3 separate regions of the Homo sapiens genome follow, and all the other regions are linked to region 2. Evidence: fine-mapped expression QTL. A gene starts in region 2. Each other region holds a variant in brackets. All regions are shown on one strand. Distances are from middle to middle. Region 1 has its middle 6.4 kb from the start of GCNT1. Region 2 holds the start of RFK (riboflavin kinase). Region 3 has its middle 26 kb from the start of GCNT1.

Region 1 (8,184 bases), 58 kb before region 2:
TTTTGGTATTTTTTGTAGAGATAGGGTTTCACCATGTTGCCCAGGCTGGGTTTGAACTCCCACGCTCAAGCGATCCACCCACCTCAGTCTCCCATAATGCTGGGATTACAGGTGTGAGCCACCTTGCCCAGCCCACTTATTTTTAATGCCTGCAATAACATACACCCATAAATCTATACAAGTAGTTTAGAAGGTATTTCTGGAATGCTTAGGGGTGTATCAGTCAGGGCCCAGTCAGAAAACAGAAATCACAGCAATTACTTTTACAGAGAATTTAAGGTCATGAAGATTGGCAAGGCAAAAACATTGTAGTAACAGAGAGAGAGTAACTGCAGGAAGCAGCTGCCATGCACAGAGCTGGGGAGAGGGGAAGTGTTGGGGTTATCAGAACCTAACAGCCAGGAGAGGGCCCCTGGTTGGCTGGGAGTCAGACCTCAAAGGAGGGGGCGGTACCCAGCTGGTGCTTTTATCTCTGAAGGTAAATATTGAGGCTGGATGGGAGAGGGTGGATTAAAACAAACAAACAAATCTAAGAAACTGGAACCAGCTGTTGCTGCAGCCAGGGAGAAGAGCCATTGCTTGGTAACATGGACAGGAACAGTAAGCAGCTATAAAGTAGCAAGTCCCTCTCCTCAAGCACCCCTTATAAGCAAAACCTTATAGGAAATGTGATTTGCTAAGTCCCAGCCCTGGCTCACAAAGCAGAAGATAGAAGCTTGAGTTTGAACTCTAAGACATACTTCAATAACCAGCACAAGGAGCAAACTCATGATCACAAACACCCAACTCTCCTAATATTATAGATGTGGGAAAGTGTCTGATAAACACAGCTGTCATAGTAATGATTAATACAATAGCAATATATTCTTAAAATGTCATAATAAAACTATAGTTACAAGTACAATCAAATAACGGGACAGAGGCAGGGCATGGTGGCTTATGCCTGTAATCCCAGCACTTCGGGAGGCCGAGGTGGGCAGATCACTTGAGGTAAGGAGTTCGAGTTCCAGCCTAGCCAACATGGCGAAACCCCGTCTCTACTAAAAATATAAAAATTAGCTGGGTGCGGTGGCACATGCCTGTAATCCTAGCTACTGGGGAGGCTGAGGCACGAGAATCGGTTGAATCTGGGAGGCGGAGGTTCCAGTGAGCCAAGATCATGCCACTGCACTCCAGCCTGGGTGACAGAGCAAGATTCCATCTCAAAAATAGATAAATAAATAAGAATAAATTAAAAAAAAAGTAAGGGGATGGTGTTGCTTGACCTATACTTTGTGTTACTGGAGACCAGTGAACATCCTCTCCCGGCTGTATTTTCTGAGAAACCACTAACTACATAGAACCACCTTTCCCCAAATGACTTAGGTAATCATCATGGATAACATCCTTTCACACTTACAACAAGGCCATAGACATGCGCTCCAAATTTCCATTCTCATCTTATAAATGGTTAGCTGAACCATTTGCCCCTACTGATCAATCTGGGCAAATACCTTACTTGATCAAACTTCAATGAGGCTTTTCTCCTTCCATCAGGTCTTTGCCCTTTAATCTAGTCTCAGCCTAAACCAGCATTGGAATTTGGAATAAGCCCCTTAATGTCCTGTATTAGTCTGCTTTCACATTGCTATAAAGACATTTCTGAGACTGGATGATTTATAAAGAAAAGAGGTTTAAAGGCTGGGTGCGGTGGCTCACGCCTGTAATCTCAGCACTCTGGGAGGCTGAGGCGGGCGAATCACAAGGTTAGGAGTTCGAGACCAGCCTGACCAACATGGTGAAACTCTGTCTCTACTAAAAATACAAAAATTATCCAGGCGTGGTGGTGCACGCCTGTAATCCCAGCTACTCAGGAGGCTGAGGCAGGAGAGTCGCTTGAACCCGGGAGGCGGAGGTTGCAGTGAGCTGAGATCATGCCACTGCACTCCAGCCTGGCGACAGAGTGAGACTCTGTCTAACAAAAAAAAAAAAAAAAAAAAAAGAAAAGAAAAGAGGTTTAATTGACTCACAGTTTTGCCTGGCTGGGGGGGCCTCAGGAAACTTTTAATCATGACAGCAGGGGAAGAGGCACATCTTACACGGCGGCAGATGAGAGAGAGCAAGCAAGAGCAGGGAAAACAGCCTTATAAGACCATCAGATCTCCTGAGAACTCACTCACTATCACAAAAACAACACGGGGGAAACTGCCCCCACGATCCAATCACCTCCACCAAGCCCCTCCCTCACCACGTGGGGATTATGGGGATTACAATTCAAGATGAGATTTGGGTGGGGTTTGGGTGGGAACACAGCCAAACCATATCACATCCCCTCCCAAGAAGCCCTTTTCCAGCTGACCACAAAGAAACTCTGTCCTGATCAGTTGCCTGATTGGGCCACCTGCTCATCCCACTCCCTGATACTGGTTCTTTTTTTTTTTTTTTTTTTTTTTTTTTTCTTTTCTGAGACAGAGTTTCGCTCTTGTTGCCCAGGCTGGAGTACAATGGTGGTGCAATCTCAGCTCACTGCAACCTCCGCCTCCCGGGTTCAAGCGATTCTTCTGCCTCAGCCTCCCAAGTAGCTGGGATTACAGGCATGCACCAACCATGCCCAGCTAATTTTGTATTTTTAGACGAGTTTTCACCATGTTGGTCAGGCTGGTCTCAAACTCCTGACCTCAGGTGATCCTCCCACCTTGGCCTCTCAGAGTGCTGGGATTACAGGCATGAGCCACCGCACTCAGCCGATACTGGTTCTTTTTAACATTGTTTACTACTACCAAAAAAAGAAAAACCCTTTTCTGCCTGACCTTTCAAAAGCTTGCAGATCTTATGGTTGAAGCATTCTATTAGAATGCCGTCCCTCCCCTATTGCGACATTCTCTTTTTCTATTGCAATAATCCTTCTAAATAAAGTCTCTCCTTACCTAGATCTGGATTTGGTTTTTATTTGACAGTTCTCATTGCTGTGATCCAGCTCAAGACTGGAACTCACCTAGGGACCTCCACCAGCCCCACCCAGGTAAAGGTGCCATGTTCAGGACTTGAGGACTCTTGGGTGAGTTCAAGTCTTGAACCAGTGCTCTGGCCATCTTGTCTGTTGAAGAACAGTAAGAGGTTACTTTGATTGTTTCAGGCAAAGAGATGCTTTGGCCCTCCTGTGAGACTTCTGTGTTTCCTCAGCTCCTCGACCTGGGGATTGTTCAAGGGAATTAATCAAGTGGGAGTTTTTCTTGGCTCCTTTAAAGACTTTTCTTTGGGCTGACTATCCACTAATGCCATGGGTAACTCTCACTCTATCAGATGCCCTCCTCTTCCCCCACTGAGTACCTGCTATTATGGCACTAATTCAGTTTAATAGCCTCAAAAATGGCACAATTTACTAAAGGTAACCTAGAACCTCAAAGGCCTCTTTGGGAAACATGAGATCTCCTTAAACCAGCTCATCTAAGACTTCTCCCTTCCCATCATCCTCATCCCTCCTTTTTACCACTTTAAACCTTCTCTTTTGTTGCCTTGAATGATTTAATCTGTCCACCTCCTTCACCCATCTACCCATTCCTACACACCTTTTCCTACCCACTCCAGCTCCTCAACTCATGGTCACTCAAGATTAGGCCTCCCTTCTGTTCTGACCACCTTCTCTTCACAGCACTGGTGAAGCAGGGATCTCCTGTGCTAAACAGGAGATGGCTGAACAGATGACACCCAATACTGGGCAGATGAGATTGGCTACAGTTTTTTCAGTTACATACTCACAGCCTAAGGGGTGAGGAGGTTATTGCATGCCAGGCAGAGCCACATGGGAATTGCATTTGAAAGCAGACTGAAGCAGCAGGGGCTGTGTGAGGCAGGCTTTGTAGTAATGGCACAAGAGTGAGGTAACCTTTTATTCCACGGGAGGATGTAATTGGCTTGTTCAAATAGTTCTGTGGGCTGGCAGGTAGGTAAAGCTCCTTAGATTGAAGATTAAGTAGGGTACAGCTGGTCTGGCTGAAGGGGAAACTAGCTGGGTAGGGAGCCCTTCCCACTTCGGGGGTGATATGGTTTCGATCAGTGTCCCTGCCCAAATCTCATATCGAATTGTAGTCCCCAGTTGTGGAAGTGGGGCCTGATGGAGTGTGATTGAATCCTGGAGGCGGTTTCTAATGGTTTAGCACCATCCCTTTGGTGCTGTCTTGTCATGGAGTTCTCATGAGATCTGGTTGTTTAAAAGTATGTGGCACCTCCTCCCTGCCTCTCCTCCCCCTGCTCCAGCCGTGTAAGATGTACCTGCTTCCCCTTCAACTTGCATCATGATTGTAAGTTTCCTGAGGCCTCCCAAGCCATGCTTTCTGTGCAGCGTACAGAACTGTGAGCCAATTAAACCTCTTTTCTTTATAAATTACCCAGTCTCAGGTAGTTCTTTATAGCGATACAAGAATGGTCTAATATAAGTACCTAGATCATTTCTAAGTAAGATAGACTAGTGGAGCATAATTTAAAGCTTATGTAAATTTTTTTTAGTACAGAGAGGCTAAATATATTTTGGTCTGCTAATGATGTGTTCATTCTTGCCACACTGAAAAGTTGTACAGGCCAGGTGCAGTGGTTCACACCTGTAATCCCAGCACTTTGGGAGGCCAAGGTGGGTGGATCACCTGAGGTCAGGAGTTTGAGATCAACCTGACCAACATGGTGAAACCCCATCTGTACTAAAAATACAAAAATTAGCTGGATGTGGTGGCAGGGGCCTGTAATCCCAGTTACTCGGGAGGCTGAGGCAGGAGAATCACTTGAAGCCAGGAGGTGGAGGTTGCAGTAAGCCGAGATCACACCATTGCACTCCAG[C/T]CTGGGCGACAGAGAGAGACTCCATCTCAAAACAACAACAACAACAACAAAAAAAAAAAAAAAAAAGAAAGAAAGAAAAGAAAAGAAAAGTTGTACTATAAGGAAGTGTATGGCTATAAAAAAGTCACAAGATATATAACCTTAAGCTTGACTAGTCTGCTACAATATGCTGGTATATGACAGACAGCTAATTATCTACTTCATAGTTTTCTCTGTAGGTATATTACTTTGCTAGGTCTGTCAACAAAGTACCATAGACTGGTACTTTAAACAACAGAATTTTGTTTTCTCACAATTCTGGAGGCTGGAAGTCCAAAATTGAGTGTCAGCAGAGTTGGGCTTTTTCTGAGGCCTCTCTCCTTGGCTTGTAGATGCCAAGATTAATATTTCTTTGGCCTTTTATATTAAAACTTTTAATTAACATTTATCTTTTTAATGGTAGGCATTCCTCATTTTAAGATACCTGACCCTTAAACAACTGATTTTTGCCACCACCTTTCAACAGATGCTTCAGCTGGTTTTGTGGGAACAACACCAACCAGAGTCCCCAGGAGACCGTTTCTTAGTCCCTGACTCACCCCATGTAGGAGGCTTAGGATTGCATCTGAATTGCTCAGTGGTGAATAATATTCTTTTATCATTAACAAAAGGGAGGTCAACAGTGTTGATCTTTGCCAGAGCCTTGTTTTTCTGAAAAATAGCACTGGCTAAAGAGCTCTCCTCATCCTTTTATGATAGCCACCCATCCTCTTCTTGCAATAATCCTTTTGAATAAAGTCTCCCCTTGCCTAAATCCAGATTTATTTTGACAAATGCTACAAAATTAGTTTTGAATTGTTTTAGAAATTTAATCAAATTACATTGAAAAGAACATGAGGAAGACATAAAAGAGTAAGGTACTACTTTCAAAGCATGGAGAAAGCAAATTCAATCATAAATGTACTGTCCAGGAAAAAAAGAAAGTGTGGCTCCTAAGCATGCAAATTCCAGGTAGAGTAAAGCCTGAAATATGTTTCTAAAACCCATACATGTAAGTTCTTTAATGTTTTTAAAAAGAAACAGGTTGATCCCTTTTAAGAGCAGGCAGCATTTCTCAGAATGGCAACAAAGCTAAAATCACACACAAAATAGTTTGATATAGTTAATACATTAAAGTGTTAAATGTATGCATAACAAAATATATCATAAACAAAGTTAAAAGTCAACAAACTAGAAAATATATGCAATAGTATGTAAGCAAAAATTAATTTTTCAAATAAAGGGGTGTTTACGTAAAAATATGCACCAGGTGAAAAATGGGCAAAGGGCATGATAAGATACTTCACTAAAGAAGAAATCCACATAAAAAGATGCTCAATTTCAATAGGAATTGAAGAAAAGCAAATTAAAACTACAAATCACTTTTTACCTATCAGATTGGCAAAGTTGAAAAAGATTGATAAACATAATATAGATGAAGGTGTAGGAATACAGACTCCTGTGCTGCTCTCTGTTGTAGAGATTTCTACAAACTTTCTAGAAGGCATTTGGACAACATGGATACTTATGGACAACTATTCATCTAGGAATTTATCCTATGTAGGAAATTTTACAAATACACAAAGATTTCAGAATCGAAACACTGTAAACAATGTAAGGGTTGTTAAAAAATAATTTTCAGAGAAAGATAAAATCATGACTCATACAAATATAAAAGTGCACATCTGTTAAGGAATTTACGCATATGCTATAAGGGAATCAGATGTACGTTATAAACATTTCAAAGGAAAAGTCAAAAAGCACAGATTTATCTGGAGTAAAGGAATGTTAAGATGAATTGCAAATGGAAACAAAACTGGTATTTTCATAGGGTGGGGATGGCGGGAACCAATTAAATTATTGCCAGACAGGACAGAATTTACACACCATCAGTTACATATAATTTATAAAAAGAGGCGAATAGGGCCGGGCGCAGTGGCTCACACCTGTAATCCCAGCACTTTGGGAGGCTGAGGCTGGTGGATCACTTGAGGTCAGGAGTTTGAGACCAGCCTGGCCAAAACGGCGAAAACCTGTCTCTACAAAAAATACAAAAAATTAGCTGGGCGTCTGTAATTCTAGCTACTTGGGAGGCTGAGGCATGAGAATCACTTGAGCCCAGGAGGCAGAGGTTGCAGTGAGCCGAGATCACACCATTGCACTCCAGCCTGGGTGACAGGGTGAGACTCTGTCTCAAAAACAAAACAAAACAAACAAAAACGAAAAGGTTTATTTTGTTTGCATATGTAAGCTTCACAGAAAAAAAGTGAAAATCCCAAAGAGGTGCTTAGACCCAGGAGCTTATACAGCATTTTAACAGAGGATGATAAAGTGTGGGAAGCTACTAGACAAGGGAAATGGGGAGAGGCTGCGCTTCTCTGGTGTGGGTAAATTGTGGGAAGGTAACTGGGAAAGGCATGGTAATTAAGGCTTGTTTAGTGAGGTGTGTTATGCAGATGAATTGTTCACCTTATTCTGGTATGGGAGAGGGCATCACCTTTGCAAAGGGAAATTAGGCAAACGTTTGTAGGTAGAAAGAGAGAGGGCAAAGAGTTTTGCTTGTGTCTGCTGTTTCTCAGTTGCCTTTAGCTCAAAATAATCCTTATGCCAATATGGCATGTTTTGAGGTGGCACATTCTTTTTTACTTTTACTATTATCATTTTATTTGCTTGTTTTTTTTTTTGTTGTTTTTTATAGAGACAGGGTCTTGTTTGTTGTTGCCCAGGCTGGAGTGTGGTAGTGTGATCATACCTCACTGTCATCTTGAACCAAGTAGCTAGGACTACAGGTACACACTACCCCGCCCCGCTAATTTATTTTATTTTGTTTTTGGTAGAGACAGGGTCTTGCTTTATTGCCCAGGCTGGTCTCAAACTCCTGGCCTCAAGGGATCTTCTCACTTCAGCCTCCCAAAATGCTGGGATTATAGGCCCTGCCACCATGCCCAGCCTGGGGTGGCATATTCTGATCCCTTTCCCATTGTTTCAGAAAGATGTTTCCATTTTGGAAAAACATAAAATAAATGAACAAATAATAGTAAATTTAGCATTTCTGTCCAAAAGAAAATGACATGTACAGTGAGCAGATGCCCATCAGGGTGTTTACCAGCAAAAACAAGTTAAAAGAAGTACCTGTCTGAATGGATCAACAAATTGCAGCATATCATATTAAAATAATGGAATGACATTTAAGAAAGCAAAATTGATTCACACTTCAACATGGATGAATCTCCAGACCTTATGTGGAGATAAAGATGCCAAACACGAAAGAGTACAGACCGTTTGATTCATGTTTATGTATCTGAAATTCTGGAAGAGGCAAATCTAATCTATAGTGACAGAAAGGAGAGCAGTTGT
Region 2 (8,184 bases):
CAGAAGCTTCTCCCAGGTCCTCTTCAGATTTATGATATAGATGCCATTACTTTTCCTTTTACAGATGTACTGTTCCATCTGGAAGTCAAGATTGGTGCCACCTAAGTGGGTTCCTGCTGCAAGGAACTTAAGGACATCCTCCTCCTTCATTTGCAGGACATCAAGGGCTCCGGACATTGTGAAAGTTTCCCTTTAAGTTACGACGGGAATCCAGAACAACGCCGTATGGGCCCCTCTGTAGGTAGCGCGGAAAGCAAAAACAAATAGGTTTTTGTGTGGATAAAAGTTTTCACCTCATTTGATTAAATATAAGTGAGCACAATTTCTGGATAACATAGTAAAAGTACGTTTAGTTTTATAAGAAACTGCCATATTATCTTCCAAGGGGCTGTACCATTTTGTATTCCCACCAACAATGAATGAAAGTTCCTGTTGCTCTACATGGTTGCCAGCATTTGGTGTTGTCAGTGTTCTGAATTTTGGCCATTCTAATTGGTATATAGTAGTATCTCATTGTTGTTTTAATTTGTATTTCCCTCACGATATATGATGTTGAACATCTTTTCATATGCTTATTCAGATCTTTTGCTCATTTTTTAATTGAGTTGCTTATTTTCTTATTGCTGAATTTTAAGAATTCTTCAGATTCATTTTTCATTGCTTACTTAGAATAAGCCTTCTTTTCCCTCACAAGCTGCCAGTTCTACTTTCTCTTTAGTCTTATTTGTGATCCTTCTTTCTACAGAGACAAATTAAACCAGAGAAGTGGACTCTTTCCCTACAGGCAGCTGAAAGGATGTGCAAGTGCAGTTCAGAGGGGGAAATAAAAAACACGTTTTAGAATACTTCCTTGGTTAAAAGCAGTAAGTTTGGCAAAGACACATAGACTCTCAACTCTAGATTTACTGAGAATGCTAGGTAGCATATTTTTGGAGTCAAATGAAGAAGAAAAATTATAAATCCTATAGCCTACAGAATAATTATTGAATTATTTGAAGCATATGCTTTGGCCTCTGAAGCAAGGTGGAGGGGTCTGCTTTGATCAACAGATTGAGTACTTGATGGGAGTTCTTAGAAGTACAACTCTTGGAGGGTTTATTCTTCAGTCAGAGGGGAGGAGCCATTGAACGCTATTGAGCGGTGGTGGAAAATGATCAGAATTCTTCCTTCTTGGGAGGCCGAGGAAGGTGGATCACTTGAAGCCAGGAGTTCCAGAACAGCCTGGCCAACATGATGAAACCCTGTCTCTATTAAAAATGCAAAAATTAGCCGGGCGTGGTGGCATAAACCTGTAGTCCCAGCTACTCGGGAGGCTGAGGCAGGAGAATCACTTGAGCCCGGGAGGTGGAGGTTGCAGTGAGCCGAGATTGCGCCACTGCACTCCAACCTGAGTGACAGAGTGAGACTCTGGTTCAAAAAAAAAAAAAAAAATTCTTTCTTCTATATCCTATGCTGATAACACAGTAATTACCCATATGACTTGACATGTAAATGGTAGTTTTAAAGATTGGAGCCTGACTGCTCCATCTTAAACATTCTACAAGACTCTCCTTTTTTTTTTTAAATCTATCTATTTATTTATGTATTATTTATTGAGAAGGAATCTTGCTCTGTCACTCAGGCTGGAGTACAATGGAGCAATCTCGGCTCATAGCAACCTCCGCCTCCTGGGTTCAAGCGATTCTTCCGCCCCAGTCTCCCGAGTAGCTGGGATTACTGGCATTCACTGCCATGCCTGGCTAATTTTTGTATTTTTAGTAGAGACCGAGTTTTGCCATGTTGTCCAGGCTGGTATTGAACTCCTGGCCTCAGGTGATCCACCTGCCTCGGTCTCCCAAAGTGCTGGGATTACAGGCAAGAGCCACTGCGCCCGGCCTATTTATTTTTTTAGTGACCGTGTCTTGCTTTGTCATTAGGCTGGAGTGCAGTGGTTCAATCACAGCTCACTGCTGCCTCAAATTCTGGGGCTCAGGCGATCCTCACTCCTCAGTTTCCCAAGTAGCTGGGGCTATAGGCACGAGCCACCACCACCTGGCTGAGACAGAGTCTCGCTCTGTTGCCCCATATGGAGTGCAGTGGCGTGATCTCCAGCTCACTGCAACTGCCGCCAGGTTCGAGCGACTCTTGTGCCTCGGCCTCCAGGGTATCTAGGACCACAGGTGAGCGCCACCACTCCCGGCTAATTTTTGTATTTTTTGTAGAGACGGGGTTTCACCATGTTGCCCAGGCTGGTCTCCAACTCCTGAGCTCAAGTGATCCACCGGCCTCAGCCTCCCAAAGTGCTGGGATTACAGGCATGAGCCACTGTGCCAGGCCCTGGCTGATTTTTAAAATTTTCTTTCTTATTTTCTCCTCTTCTTTTCTTTCCCCTTTCTTCTTTTTTTTCTTGTTTCTTTTCTTTTCTTTCTTTTTTCTCTCTTTCTTACTTATTTTTATTTTAAAATTTTTGGATAGACGGAAGTCTCCCTATTTTGCCCAGGCTGGTCTTGAACTCCTCAGCTCAAGAGATCCGCTCACCTCGGTCTCCCAGAGTGCTGGGATTACAGGCGTAAGCCACCATGCCCCGCCCATTTTTATACGTTTAGGTTAATGCTTTCCAACAAAGCTGATGAGAGGATTACATGAGACAGTGTGAAAAATACTTAGCATTTTCTCTATTCTTAAAACCACCCCTCCTCATTTACCTCCTATGATTCATTTAATTATTTTATCTCATTTAATTCTCATACCTTCTTGCAACCTAGGGCTTAGTGGCGTAAGACCCAGGGATGATTTATCAAGTTCTCACCTCCAGGCTTTTCTTATTAGGTGTATCACTGCTGATGAAGTTAAAAATATACCATTCTTGCATATTGACTATTTTGAATTAAAAGCACTTGAAAAACAATAGATACAAAAAAATCATTCTGACCTCTTTTCTGTTTCTTAGAAGCAGATGAAATTACCATATGAGAGACATCCTCCCTATATTAGAAGGAATGCAGCACTCTTATTAAGGACGGGAGTCAAGAGTGAGAGAATCCTGTACACACCTTGCTAAAATAACTCTTAAGCCTCTCCAGATAACTTAATTGCTTTTCACAACTTGCTATTACTACTCTTACTACCGGTATTACTATTATCGTTATTCTCATTATTCTTTGTTTAATTCCGTATAGATAAGTAACTGACCATAATTGCTTCTTTGGGTCCTTCTCTCCCTTCCCTTCCCTTTTCTTCCCTTTCACTTTCCCTTCCCCTTTCCTTTCCCTTCCCTCCCTTCCTTCTTCTTCTCTAGTTCTTTTAAGGGGTGAGGGTGTCTCACTGTGTCGCCCAGTCTGGAGTGCAGTGGCGTTATCATAGCTCAGTGCAGCCTCGACCTCCTGGGCTCAATCAATCCTCCCGCGTCGGCCTCTCAAACTACTGGGAATACAGGCGTGAGCCACCAAGCCTGGCCTAGAACATAAATTTAATATCAGGTAAATCTTATCAGAGATGCATACATGTAAGGTAGAAAGAGACTACACGGTCTGCACAGAATTTTATACAAATGTATAGAGCAAAAAAGAAAAAAATTAAACTTCTCTGGATTCCATTGATTAAAAATTTAAAAAAATAAATAAAAAACTTCTTTGTCTTCGAGACGTTAAGAGGATGCACCTTCTTATAACCTTGCACCCTGCATATCCTGTGAGTGAGCCCAGAGCTACTTCCCTAGGAGCGTGCGTATTTACAGTTCCGAGGGTACGAAGGCCTCTATCTGCATTGCAGTAGAGGGACGGCCTGTTATCGGGCTTGTGAAATTGTCAAGAAGACAGCCTGGAGGGGACAGTCACCGCCCATGTCGGTAACCTTCCACTAGTCTCTGGGGTTAACAGCGTCACAGACAGGGACTTCTCCCTTGGAGCTTACATTCGAATATATTAATAACTCCAGAACGTGGTCAGTGGTCCTGGAGGACGACCGCTTCTGGTAGGGCGGCCAGGAAAAGCCTCTGTGAAGAGGCGATCTTTGAGCTGAATTTTGGAGCTTTAATAAATACTTAAAGAGCGAACGGAACGAGCGATGCCTGACGTTCAACCCAGCGGTTGCCAAGGAGCTAAAGAGCGTCTCACTTTGGCTTCCGGATTGTTATGAACAGGAGGAAGGAGAAAAAAAAACCAGAATTGTTCGAGAATTGTGCTTTCGCGGCTCTCAGGCTGAAAACGGGGTTTCCACATTAGTTCCCATCGCCAGGGGCTGAAACGAAGCCCGGGATCCAGACATTAGGCGCCTGGGGCGGGAGCCTGCAGCGGGAGCTTGCGGCGGGAGCCGGGCGAGGCAGCGGCGGGGCGGGGCCATGATGGGGCGGGGCTACGGAAGCCGAGCGGGCTCGAGGCGTTCGGCTGAGGAAGGGAGCGCACGCCGGCGGCGCGGAGGCCGGCTCTGCGCTTCGGGCCGCCCCCTCCCCCCACCCCGCTCACACCCGGCACTTACTTCGGCTGTCTCCGCTGCCCTCCAGCGGAGACGCAGCTCCTCAGGCGCCCGGCGGTATTTGTTGGGTCGGCGGCGTCAGGGATTCGCAGTGGCCTGTGGTCGGCGTCGTCCGGCCACTGGTGCGCCCCCGCGGCAGGCAGAGCTCACGCTCCTGTCCCCCGGCTGGTCCGGGGTCTGGGCGCCGCGTCGACGGCGGCTCCGCAGGACGCGCAGACCGGGCCGCAGCCCATTCCCCGAGCGGACTGCATTATGAGGCACCTGCCTTACTTCTGCCGGGGTCAAGTGGTGCGGGGCTTCGGCCGCGGCTCCAAGCAGCTGGGCATCCCCACAGGTGAGAGCAGGGCGGCCAGAGTCCCCCGGGCCGGGTCACGTGGGGAGCGGGGAGAGACGGCAGCCGGGGACTTGGGACCGGGGCGTGGGGCCTCCGGACCGCGGGCAGAGAGCACACCCTTCCTCCTCCCGCATCCCCTTGTCTGTGGCGGAGGACCGTTGGCTCGGTTGAGGGAGCTTGTCCCTGCTTCTGGCTCCGAGCTCCGCGGGGACGGGGTTGAGGGGTGGTGAGGGCCGGAAGCCCGAGATGAATCGCAGGATTCCCCGTTCACGCCTCCTTGGCCAGCCAAGGTACAGTTGGTCAAGCATTGCGCTTGTCTTGCCCATTAGAGACGTAACGTGGGCCAGAACGGCTGAACTCGCAAGCCGGGTCTAAGGTGGTTTTGTTTTTAATTTGTAATTATGTAATGTCCAAATGATAACATAGGTAGTTGAATGAGAGTCAGCTAACCTTCTTGGTCTGTCTACATTAATTTCAATAATCGAGACCTGACTGTAATTCATCCTTAGAAATACATGCCAGAGCTGCGTCTTGACTTGTTAAGTCAGCCTTGAGCTTGTGTATTTGAAAAATAAGAAGCTTTGGCCGGGCGTGGTGGCTCACGCCTGTAATCCCAGCACTTTGGGAGGCCGAGGCGGGCGGATCATCTGAGCTCAGGAGTTCGAGATCAGCCTGGCCAACATGGTAAAACCCCGTCTCTGCTAAAAATACAAAAATTAGCTGGGCATGGTGGCGCGTGCCTGTCATCCCAGCTACTCGGGAACCTGAGGCAGGAGAATCGCTTGAACCCAGGAGACGGAGGCTGCAGTGAGGCGAGATCGTGCCACTGCCCTCCAGCCTGGGCGACAGAGTGAGACACCGTCTCAAAAAAAAAAAAAAAAGAAAGAAACTTTTCAGGTGATTCAGTACCTGGTTAGGAAAGAACAGATCTGAAAAAATCCATCTACTCTGGTACTTGTTTTTTGCATCCTACTCAAAGAGTATGGATTTTTTTGGAGAGCTTTATATACTTACCTGGTACTTTATTCATAACCTATTCACATGAATAGGAGAGGGAAATCTGAGCCGGAAAATGGAAGGATGGGATTGATACTTACAGGCAAAGTTGTAGGAGTCTTGTGAATGTAATGATTTACATTAGCCTTGCATGTGATTTTTACAAATGTTTGTTTCTTATTATTATTTTGAGACAGAATCTGGCTCTGCCACTCAGGCTGGAGTGCAGTGGTAGTGCGATCATAGCTTACTGCAGCCTCCATCTGCTGGGCTCAACTGACCCTCCTGCCTCAGCCTCTCTGGTAGCTTAGACTATAGGTGCAGGCCACCATCCCCAGCTAATTTTTTAATAGAGGTAAGATCTCACTATGTTACCCGGGCCGGTCTCAAACCCCAGAGCTCAACATGAGCCTCCTGCCTTGGCCTCTCAAAGTCCTAGAATTACAGACATGAGCCACTGCACTCGGCTACAGGCATTTAATACGAAATTTGTAAGACTCAAAATATTTTCTTCTGTTGTTTAGCTAATTTTCCTGAGCAAGTGGTAGATAATCTTCCAGCTGATATATCCACTGGTATTTACTATGGTTGGGCCAGTGTTGGAAGTGGAGATGTCCATAAGATGGTGGTGAGCATAGGATGGAACCCATATTACAAGAATACGAAGAAGTCTATGGTAAGCATTATATTTTGCTCTGTAACCGAAAATGGTATGATGACTTAGAATAATATATTACAGTATTCGTTACAGAAATAGCTTATCAGTGGTAATCACAACGTAGTTCAAATACTGGAATTTTGGGCAATCTCTGTCTTTTAATTGGAGAGTTTAATTCATTTACATTTAAAGTAATTTCTGATAAGGAGGGACATCTACTGTTTTGCTATTTGTTTTTTATATGCCTTATAACTTTTATGTCCCTCATTTCCTCTATTACTGCCTTTTGTGGTAGTGTGCTTTTTGTTTTGTTTTGTTTTGTAGTGACATTTTAATTCCTTTCTCATTGCTTTCTGTGTATTTCTATAGATACTGTCTTTGTGGTTACCATGGGGTTTATATTTAACATCCTGAAATTCTAAAAGTTTAATTTGAGTTTATACCAACTTAATTTCAATAGCATACAGAACTCAGAAATTGCATCTTTTTTTTTTTTTTTAAAGATGGGGTCTCACTATGTTGCCCAGACTGAAGTGCAGTAGCTGTTCACAGGCCAGGTTGTAGCACACTGTAGCTTCAAACTCATGGGCTCAAGTAATCCTCCTCCAGCCTCCAGAGAGCTGGGACTATAGGTACATGCCACTGCCTGCATCTGGCTCAGATTACATCCTTATACATTGTGGTACCCAATAACAAAGATTAATAATTGGTTTTTTTATGCATTTATTTTTTAAATTATGTAGAAAATAAAGAGTGGAGTTACAAACCAAAATTATAATACTGACTTTGATAATTGCTGTCTGTGAAAGACTCACTTGACCAAAGATAAAAATGATTTAAAAGCCTGTTTCATAAAATTGAGCTTGCCACAATTAATGCACTTCATTCACCATTTACTTCATGCATCAATTGCGCTTGGTCACCCTCTTAAGATAAAACAGTTTACTACATGGATGGTGGATGGAGGATGGTGCTTATTGATACAGTCCCACATTGGTGCTTTTCTCTTTCCTTTTTAAACCACCTGAGGGTATACTTTTCTGCCCTACTCTTTACAGGACCCCACAACTTCAGTGTTTTATCTGTTAGATTTGGCTGAATCTTTTGTCAGCTCAAATGTGTGGCAAAAACAAATTACAGTGAAGCTAAATTTTGTTCTGTGTGGAGTTAATAGAAGTGAAGTGTGTCACTGCTGGAAAACTACAGAGCTAAATGCTGGCGTAAGCAATAGTAATGACGCAGAAGTACTTAACATTTTGCTCAGTATTTCAGTTATTTTTCAGTATTAATGATTTGAAAATTATTTTTTGGAGACAAGGAAAACAATCGAAAGATCACAAAATACCATTCTGTTGAATGAGGAAGGAAAAGAAGGGGAGGGGACAATAGCCCATAACTAATTTGTCTTTAGCTACTTAGATAACAAAAATGTTATTATACAGCCAGTTAAGGAATGCCTTTTGAGTGTTAGGAAAAATTGAATTTGAAACATAGGCATATCTTACCAGTGGAAAATTGAACTTTTGCTTGCCTTTGCCAGTAACACACATCTGTGAAGTGCCTGTGCCAGACCTTTGTCCTTTAAAAAAAAAAAAAGCGTTATCTTACTGACCTTAAATAAGTTCTTAGTAACACATCTAGATCCACTTCCTTTGTTGGAACTGTGTATTGTTGTATTACAAATTTCTTTCATTGTGTGTGTGTGTGTGGTTTTTTTTTTTTTTTTCTCAATGGTGTGTTGAAG
Region 3 (8,184 bases), 39 kb before region 2:
CCAAGAGATGGTTCTTGGATCTCACAAAAGAAAGAATTCAGGGCGAGTCCATAGAGTAAAGTGAAAACAAGTATAGTAGAAAAGTAAGGGACTAAAGAATGGCTACTCTATAGACAGAGCATCCCCAAGGGTTGCTGGTTGCCCATTTTTATGGTTATTCCTTGATGATATGCTAAACAAAGGGTGGATTATTCATGCCTCCCCTTTTTAGACCATATAAGGTAACTTCCTGACGTTGCCATGGCATTTGTAAACTGTCATGGCGCTGGTGGGAGCGTAGCAGTAAGGATAATCAGAGGTCGCTCTCATTGCCATCTTGGTTTTGGTGGGGTTTGGCCGGCTTCTTTACTGCACACTGTTTTATCAGCAAGATCTTCATGACCTGTATCTAAGTACCGACCTCCCAGCTCATCCTGTGACTTAGAATGCTGAACCGTCTGGGAATGCAGCCCAGTAAGTTTCAGCCTTATTTTACCCAGCTCCTATTCAAGATGGAGTTGCTCTTGTTCACATGTTTCTGACAATCTCTCTCTCTCTCTTTTTTTCCCCATATATTTATTTTTTTCTTTTCTTTTTTTATTATTATACTTTAAGTTCTAGGGTACATGTGCACAATGTGCAGGTTTGCTACATATGTATACATGTGCCATGTTGGTGTGCTGCACCCGTTAACTTATCATTTACATTAGGTATATCTCCTAATGCTATCCCTTCCCCCTCCCCACACCCCACGACAGGCCCTGGTGTGTGATGCTCCCCACCCTGTGTCCAAGTGTTCTCATTGTTCAATTCCCACCTATGAGTGAGAACATGCAGTGTTTGGTTTTCTGTCTGACAATCTCTCTTACCTCAACAAGCACTGAACTAAGCCTGGTGCTATCCATCCATTTTGAGGGAGTCAGCATTCAACTATCCATTGCCTTTACTTCCTATATTAGGTTAGGTTGCTCCTATTAATTCCTGTCTTACTCACAGCTTGTGACTGGAAAATAGTAGGCATTCAATAAATCAATAAATGTTATTTGAGTAAATGGACGAAATTTTCAGTTTTTAATATGCTATTGTGCCTTTTTTTTTTTTTTTTTTTTTTGAGATGGAATCTTACTCTGTCGCACAGGCTGGAGTGCAGAGTGCAGTGGTGCGATCTCAGCTCACTGTAACCTTCACCTCCCAGGGTCAAGTGATTCTTTTGCCTCAGCCTCTGGAGTACTTGGGATTACAGGCAGGCACATGCCACCATGCCCAGTTAATTTTTGTATTTTTAGCAGAGATGGGCTTTCACCATGTTGGCCAGGCTGATCTTGAACTCCTGACCTCAAGTGATCTGCCTGCCTCTGCCTCCCAAGGCATTGTGACTTTCTAAGCAGGGAAATGGTGTAATTTCCCCCAAATTCCCACCACTTGTGGAAGGTATGTTCCTCAAACACCCTTTGGACAACCCTATCCTAATTTGTTACACAGATGTTTTCTTATAAGATGGAGGCCGAGGTAGGTGGATCACCTGAGGTCAGGAGTTCAAGACCATCCTGGGCAACATGGTGAAACCCCATATCTACTAAAAACACAAAAATTAGCCAGGCATGGTGGCACATGCCTGTAATCCCACCTACTGGGGAGGCTGAGGAGGGAGAATTGAACCCAGGAGGCAGAGGTTGTAGTGAGCCGAGATCGTGCCACTGCACTCCAGCCTGGGTGACAGAGCGAGATTCTGTCTCAAAAAAAAAAAAAAAAAAAAAAGATATGGGAACTACTGCTTAGCACTCTGTCATTCTTACTAAAGGAAGTGCTCCAGGATTGAATGTACCAATAAATTTAAGACCCTTCACTGTGTGAAAACCCTAATCTTAGGACTCTTTTCCACTCAAGATTATGGTCTTTGTTATGGACCTAATTGTGTCCCTCCCCAAATTCATATGTTGAAGTCCCAACCTCTGATGTGACTGTATTTGGAGATAGGGCTTTAAGAATGTAATTAACATTAAATGAGGTAATAAGGCTGGGACCTTAATACAATAGGACCAGTGTCCTTGTAAGAAGAGTAAAAGACACCTAAGAACTCTTTCTCTCTCTTTGTGGGTACACACAAGAGGACAGACACAGTGAGAAGATGGCCATCAACAAACCAGAAAGAGAAGCCTCACCAGAAACCAAACTTGCTGGCACCTTATTCTTGGATTGCTAGCCTCCAGAACTGTGAAGAAATAAATTCTGTTGTTTTAGCCACAGAGTCTGTGGTAACTTGTTATGGTAGTGGGAGCTGACTAATTCAGTCTTCTTGAGGCTGAATTTGGGACCAGTGGGGGAACTGGTCCCAAAATTTCAACGTAGGCTCTTTCTATTTTCCATAATTGCTGGCCAGTCTGAGAAATAAAGAGAAAGACTACAAAGAGAGGAATTTTACAGCTGGGCCGCCAGGGGTGACATCACATATCAGTAGGTCCATGATGCCCACCCGAGCCGCAAAACCAGCAAATTTTCATTAGGGATTTTAAAAGGGGAGGGGCTGTATGAACAGGGAGTAGCTCACAAAGATCACATGCTTCAAAGGGAAAAAGGGAGAACAAAGATCACATGGTTCTGAGGAAACAGGGCAAGGACAAAAGCAAAGATCACAAGGCAAAGGTCAAAATTAGAATTACTGATGACGGTCTATGTTCAGCTGTGCACGTATTGTCTTGATAAACATCTTAAACAACAGAAAACATGGTTCGAGAGCAGAGAACTGGTCTGACCTCAAATTTACCAGGGTGGGATTTCTTCCCCACCCTAATAAGCCTGAGGGTACTGCAGGAGACGGGGCGTATTTCAGTCCTTATCTCAACCACACTTCCAGAGTGGCTGTTTATAGACCTCTCCCCAGGAATGCAATTCTTTTCCTAGGGTCTTAATATTATATTCCTTGCTAGGAAAAGAATTTAGCGATATCTCTCTTACTTGCACATCCATTTATAGGCTCTCTGCAAGAAGAAAAATATGGCTCTTTTTGCCCCACCCCGCAGGCAGTCAGACCTTATGGTTGTCTTCCCTTGTTCCCTAAAATCGGTGTTATTCTGTTAGTTTTCAAGGTGCACTGATTTCATATTTTTCAAACACACATGTTTTACAATCAGATTTCATGTTGTTCAAACACAAGTTTTACAATCAATTTGTACAGTTAACACAATCATCACAGGGTCCTGAGGTGACATACATCCGCAGCTTACAAAGATAACAGGATTAAGAGATTAAAGACAGGCATAAGAAATTATAAAAGTATTATTAGGGGAGTGATAAATGTCCATGAAATCACAATTTATGTTCCTCTGCCATGGCTCCAGCCAGTCACTCCATTCGGGGTCCCTGACTTCCCACAATAGTGAGTCCTGAACATGACCTATGGCTCAGAGAGCTCTCTCTAGCCTATTTATCCTGGTGTCATAGCTTCTGTTGATGATGATAATCATACTACATTAGTCCCCCCTTATCCACAGGAGATACGTTCCAAGACCCCCAGTGGATACTCGAAATCCTTAATAGTACTGAACCCTGTAAGTGCTATGCTTTTTCCTATGCATAATGTGAAAATAAAATGTAAAAGCTGTTGAAATCCCCCAAACACTATAAGCCTTGAGAGAGATGTGACTCTGATCTGAGTCATGCAGCATGTAGTTGTAACTTCTACTTCTTAGGTTATAGATTAAGTGAACCGAAGAATAAGGAGGAACTGCTGTATTATTTTTATATAACTTTGAATTTTACAGAGCTCTTTCACAGGCATCAGCTCAGTGGCACTTTGCAACAATTGAGGGATATGAGGAGGTTCACTGAAGGACAACAAACTGAGGGCTGAAGTCACAGCCACTAGAAAGTAGAAGGGTCAGAATCCCCTATTGTCTTAAATCCATCACACATCCTACTATCTGGTACTGACACAGGATTTTTCTCAACCACCTTGCCAGCAGGAAACCTCCAGCCGGTGATACCCCTGCCCAGGCTTCCCTCAGCCCAGGGCTCCCTGCAAGAGGCACCCTGCCCACTCAGCCTGCCAAACTGTGCCTGGCTTGCACTCCAGCATGGATCCTGTGGCCACCGCGACTGCAGCACTCAGCCCCTGGCAGGAGGGGGTGTGTGGGCAAGTGAGTCCAGGGTCTGGCTGGCCTCTCCAAAGGCCAGCACAGGAGCAGTCTACATGTGGGGCTAGTGGCTGGCCCAGGCATGTGGCAAGTGACTCCCATGGTGGACTCCAGCATACAGATGAGGGGTACGCCGTGGCACACAAACAGCAAAACCTGCAACCCCAAAGCCCCAGAGGGGGTGTTACAGTGTGCTAACAGCTGTTTTAGTTCCTCCACAGCCTGATGAACAGGGGCACGTTAACAGTTCTGTCAGTCCCATTGCCCCACTCCAGCCCACAGGTTTGGGGATGACCTGGCCCTGCTGCTTTCCGTTACGTGGGGCAACTGCTGAGCTCCGAAGAGGGGGCAGGGCAGAGGGCTACAGTGTTACTGTCGTCTTTGTACCTGCATTCGGAGGGGTCCCAAGTTCTTGGTCCGCATCCAAGAAGAATGAGATTATGCTGACTATTGAAGGGTGAGGAGGGCAGAGAAGAGTTTTATTGAGTGATGAAACAGCTAATGAAACAGCTCTCAGTAGAGAGGGGCCACAAGGGTGGTCTCCCACTTGGTCGGGTGGTCTCTCTCTCAGTGTGGCTGGGTATGGGGCTTTTGTGGGCTCAGAAGGCAGGAGTGCATGCTAATTGGTTTGTGAGTATCCAAAAAAGCCTAAAACAAAGGCACCGTTCAAAGGTGAGCACGACTGTAAAAAAACAATTAGGAAAGAGAAGGTATATATAAAATAGGTGAAGGGTGAGGATCAATCAAAGGAAAGCATGACAAATAGAAAGAGATTCTCAATCCAGTTCCTATGTTTATGCAAGACTTTTAGCTTGGCTTTCAGGCTTTAAACTGCCTTTGGCTTGAAGGTGGGGTTTTACCAGGGATCCACCCCATCTGCCTAGTCATTTGACTGCCTCCTACCGCTATCAGTATGTGAAAGACAATATTAAA[C/G]TAAGGATGGGCACAGTGGAGCACGCCTGTAATCCCAGCACTTTGGGAGGCCCAGGCAGGCGGATCACCTAGGCTCAGGAGTTCTCAACCAGCCTGGGCAACATGGCGAAACCCTGTCTCTATAAAAAATACAAAAATAAGCCAGACATGGTGCTGCGTGCCTGTAGTCCCTGCTACTCTGGAGGCTGAGGTGGGACCGCTTGAGCCTAGAAGGTTGAGACTGCAGTGAGCCATGATTACACCACTGCATTTGAGCCTGGGCAACAGAGTGAAACCCTGTCTTGAAAAAACAAAAAACAAACAAATATATTAAACTAGATATTAGACATTTTAAGACTCAATTGCCCATATTTTCACTAGACAATTTTAATTTGGATTGCCTACATTTTTTTTGGACTAGATGTAATGTATTTTATGTAATATACTAAATGTAATATATTTAGGTCACCCAATAAAAAATTTGGTCTTTGTCTCATGCTTTTGGCAAGGAGCTTCTAAAACCCTTGGAATTTCTTTCCTTTTTTTTCCTTTTCTTGAGACAGAATTTTGCTCTGTTGCCCAGGCTGGAGTGCAGTGGTGCAATCTCAGCTTGCTGCCACCTCTGCCTCCCGGGTTTAAGCGATTCTTCTGCCTCAGGCTCTCAAGAAGCTGGGATTATGGGTGCCCATGACCACACCCGGCTAATTTTTGCATTTTTAGTAGAGATGGGGTTTCACCATGCTGGCCAGGCTGGTCTCAAACTCCTGACCTCAATTGATCCATCCACCTCGCCTCGCAAAGTGCAGGAATTACAGGCATGAGCCAACGTGGCTGGCCTGGAATTTCTTAAGGGATAGGAGTCTTTGTTGTGTTAATGAGGTATTAATGGCAGGCTCTTGGATGGCTACAGCTAGGGGACTGGTCACTGGAAAGACCAACCGCTTAATTTGAGGGTTGGCGCTTTGATATCAGCCTGACCTCCCGACTTCCAAAGAGGCGACTGGGGCTGGAGATTGAGTTCAATCAAGTGGACAGTGATTAAATCAATCATGCCTAGATAATGAAACCCCAATAAAAGACTCTGGTCATGGAGGCTCAGTGGGACTTCCGGGTTGGTGAACACATTGATGTGCTAGGAGGGTGATGTTTCCTGATTTCAAGAGGAGAGAGCAAGAAAGCTCTGTGTTCTCTCCCAGACCTCACCCTATGCGTAACTTTTATAATAAAATTATAATCATAAGTGTAGCACTTTCCTGAGTTCTGTGAGTTGTCCTAGCAAGTTACTGAAACTGAGTGGATCATGGGACCCCCAAATCTGTAGCGAGTAGGTCAGAGTATGGATGACCTGGGGTCCCTGCTAAGGGCTGGCATCTGATGTGAGGGCAGTCTTGTGGAGGATTGAGCCTTACCTTGTGGAGTCTGATGCTAACTCCATGTGGTTAGTGTCAGAACTAAATTTCAGTGCACCTAGTTATTGTTAGCCCAGTTGGGGATTTTGCCAGGACGTTTTAACATATTCATTTACTTTCCTCCCTCTGTAACAGATGTTCATTTTAGAAAATTTAGATATGAGAAAATAAAAATCATCTGTAACTCCACTACCCAAATTGAACTACTCCAATATATATTCTTTCATTCTTTTTCCTGTGTATGTGTGTGCATGTTACTTTAAGAGATGAGGCCAGGTACAGTGGCTCATGCCCGTAATCCCGGCACTTTGGGAGGCCAAGGTAGGTGGATTGCTTGAGGTCAGGAGTTCGAGACCAGCCTGGCCAACATGGTGAAACCCTATCTGTACTAAAATTACAAAAATTAGCTGGGTGTGGTTTGGTGTACACCTGTATTCCCAGCTACTCAGGGGCCTGAGGCACAAGAATCACTTGAGCCTGGGAGGCGGAGGTTGCAGTGAGCTGAGATTGCACCACTGCACTTCAGCCTGGGCCATTGAGTGAGACTTGGTCTCAAAAAAAAAGAGGACTAACCAGGTGCAGTGGCTCATTCTTGTAATCCCAGCACTTTGGGAGACCAAGGAAGGAGGATGGCTTGAGCTCAGGAGTTCATGACCAGCCTAGGCAACATAGTGAGACCTCATTTCTACCAAAATAAAAAAAAAAAATTAGTCGAACATGGTGGCAAGCACCCTTAGTCCCAGTTACTGAGGAGGCTGAGGTGGAAGGATCACTTGAGCCCCCGAGGTCAAGGATGCAGGGAGCCATGATCCCACTACTGCACTCCAGCCTGGGCAACAGAGTGAAACCCTGTTAAAAAAAAAATGAGTGTTCTGTCAATAATTATGTGAAAAGATATACAACCTTACTAATGACCAGAAAAATGCAAATTAAAATAGAAACAATAATGAGATTTTTTAAATCCTTCTCGGATTGGCAAAAAATTTAAAAGTCATGTAATACCAAGTGTTGTCAAGAATGTAGGGAAATAGAACTTTCACCCACTGCCAGTATATAGTAGGTTGCAAAAAAACAGCCACCTATTTCTCCCATTCCTGTATACATAACGCTTTACTATATAATTTTGTCTCTTTTGCCACCAAAGGCTAGAGTATATTTCTCTGCCCCTTGAATCTGAGCTTGGTCATGTGCCTTGCTTTGGCTAATGGGACATTTGCAAATGTGATGAAAATAGAGGCTTGAGGCTGGGCATGGTGACTCACGCCTGTAATCCCAGCACTTTGGGAGGCCGAGGCGGGCAGATCACAAGGTCAGGAGATCGAGACCATCCTGGCTAACATGGTGAAACCCCATCTCTAATAAAAATACAAAAAATTAGCCGGGCGTGGTGGCGGGTGCGTGTAGTCCCAGCTACTCAGGAGGCTGAGGCAGGAGGATGGCAGGAACCCGGGAGGCGGAGCTTGCAGTGAGCCGAGATTGCGCCACTGAACTCCAGCCTAGGAGACAGCGAGACTCCGTCTCAAAAAAAAAAAAAAAAAAAGAAAGAAAACAGAGGCTTGAAAACCTTCTATTCATTAGGGCTTGTACTTTCTTGCTGGCAAGAATCTTTCTGCTTGTATGTGAGCAAGCTGGACCTAGCCTCCTAAATGATGAGAGAGACTCCAGCTGTCACATATGAATAAACTATCTTAGAAAATCCAGTCCTGGCCAAGATCACCAGCCCAGGAGAACAGGCTGCCAATCCAAAAAAT

What was found. PIP is the estimated chance that this variant, and not a neighbour inherited with it, causes the effect.
Region 1: its variant is fine-mapped to the expression of RFK in tibial artery (GTEx, PIP above 0.99).
Region 3: its variant is fine-mapped to the expression of RFK in lung (TOPMed, PIP above 0.99).

What each region holds. Positions count from the first base shown.
Region 1 is chr9:76,448,640-76,456,823 of GRCh38, reverse strand. It overlaps a transcript of GCNT1 not described here. Among named protein-coding and RNA genes, the nearest start is that of GCNT1, 6.4 kb to the left of the region's middle. The variant C/T (reference allele first, on the strand shown) is at 4,810.
Region 2 is chr9:76,390,692-76,398,875 of GRCh38, reverse strand. It overlaps RFK (riboflavin kinase), which reads left to right and starts at 4,450. Exons shown (of 4, transcript NM_018339.6): 1 at 4,450-4,786; 2 at 6,307-6,458. The coding sequence starts at 4,705. It also overlaps a transcript of GCNT1 not described here and the pseudogene RPSAP9. RefSeq lists enhancers at 3,792-4,031, 4,209-4,503, 4,366-5,179 and silencers at 4,312-4,371, 4,392-4,471, 4,512-5,001.
Region 3 is chr9:76,429,505-76,437,688 of GRCh38, reverse strand. It overlaps a transcript of GCNT1 not described here. Among named protein-coding and RNA genes, the nearest start is that of GCNT1, 26 kb to the left of the region's middle. The variant C/G (reference allele first, on the strand shown) is at 5,046.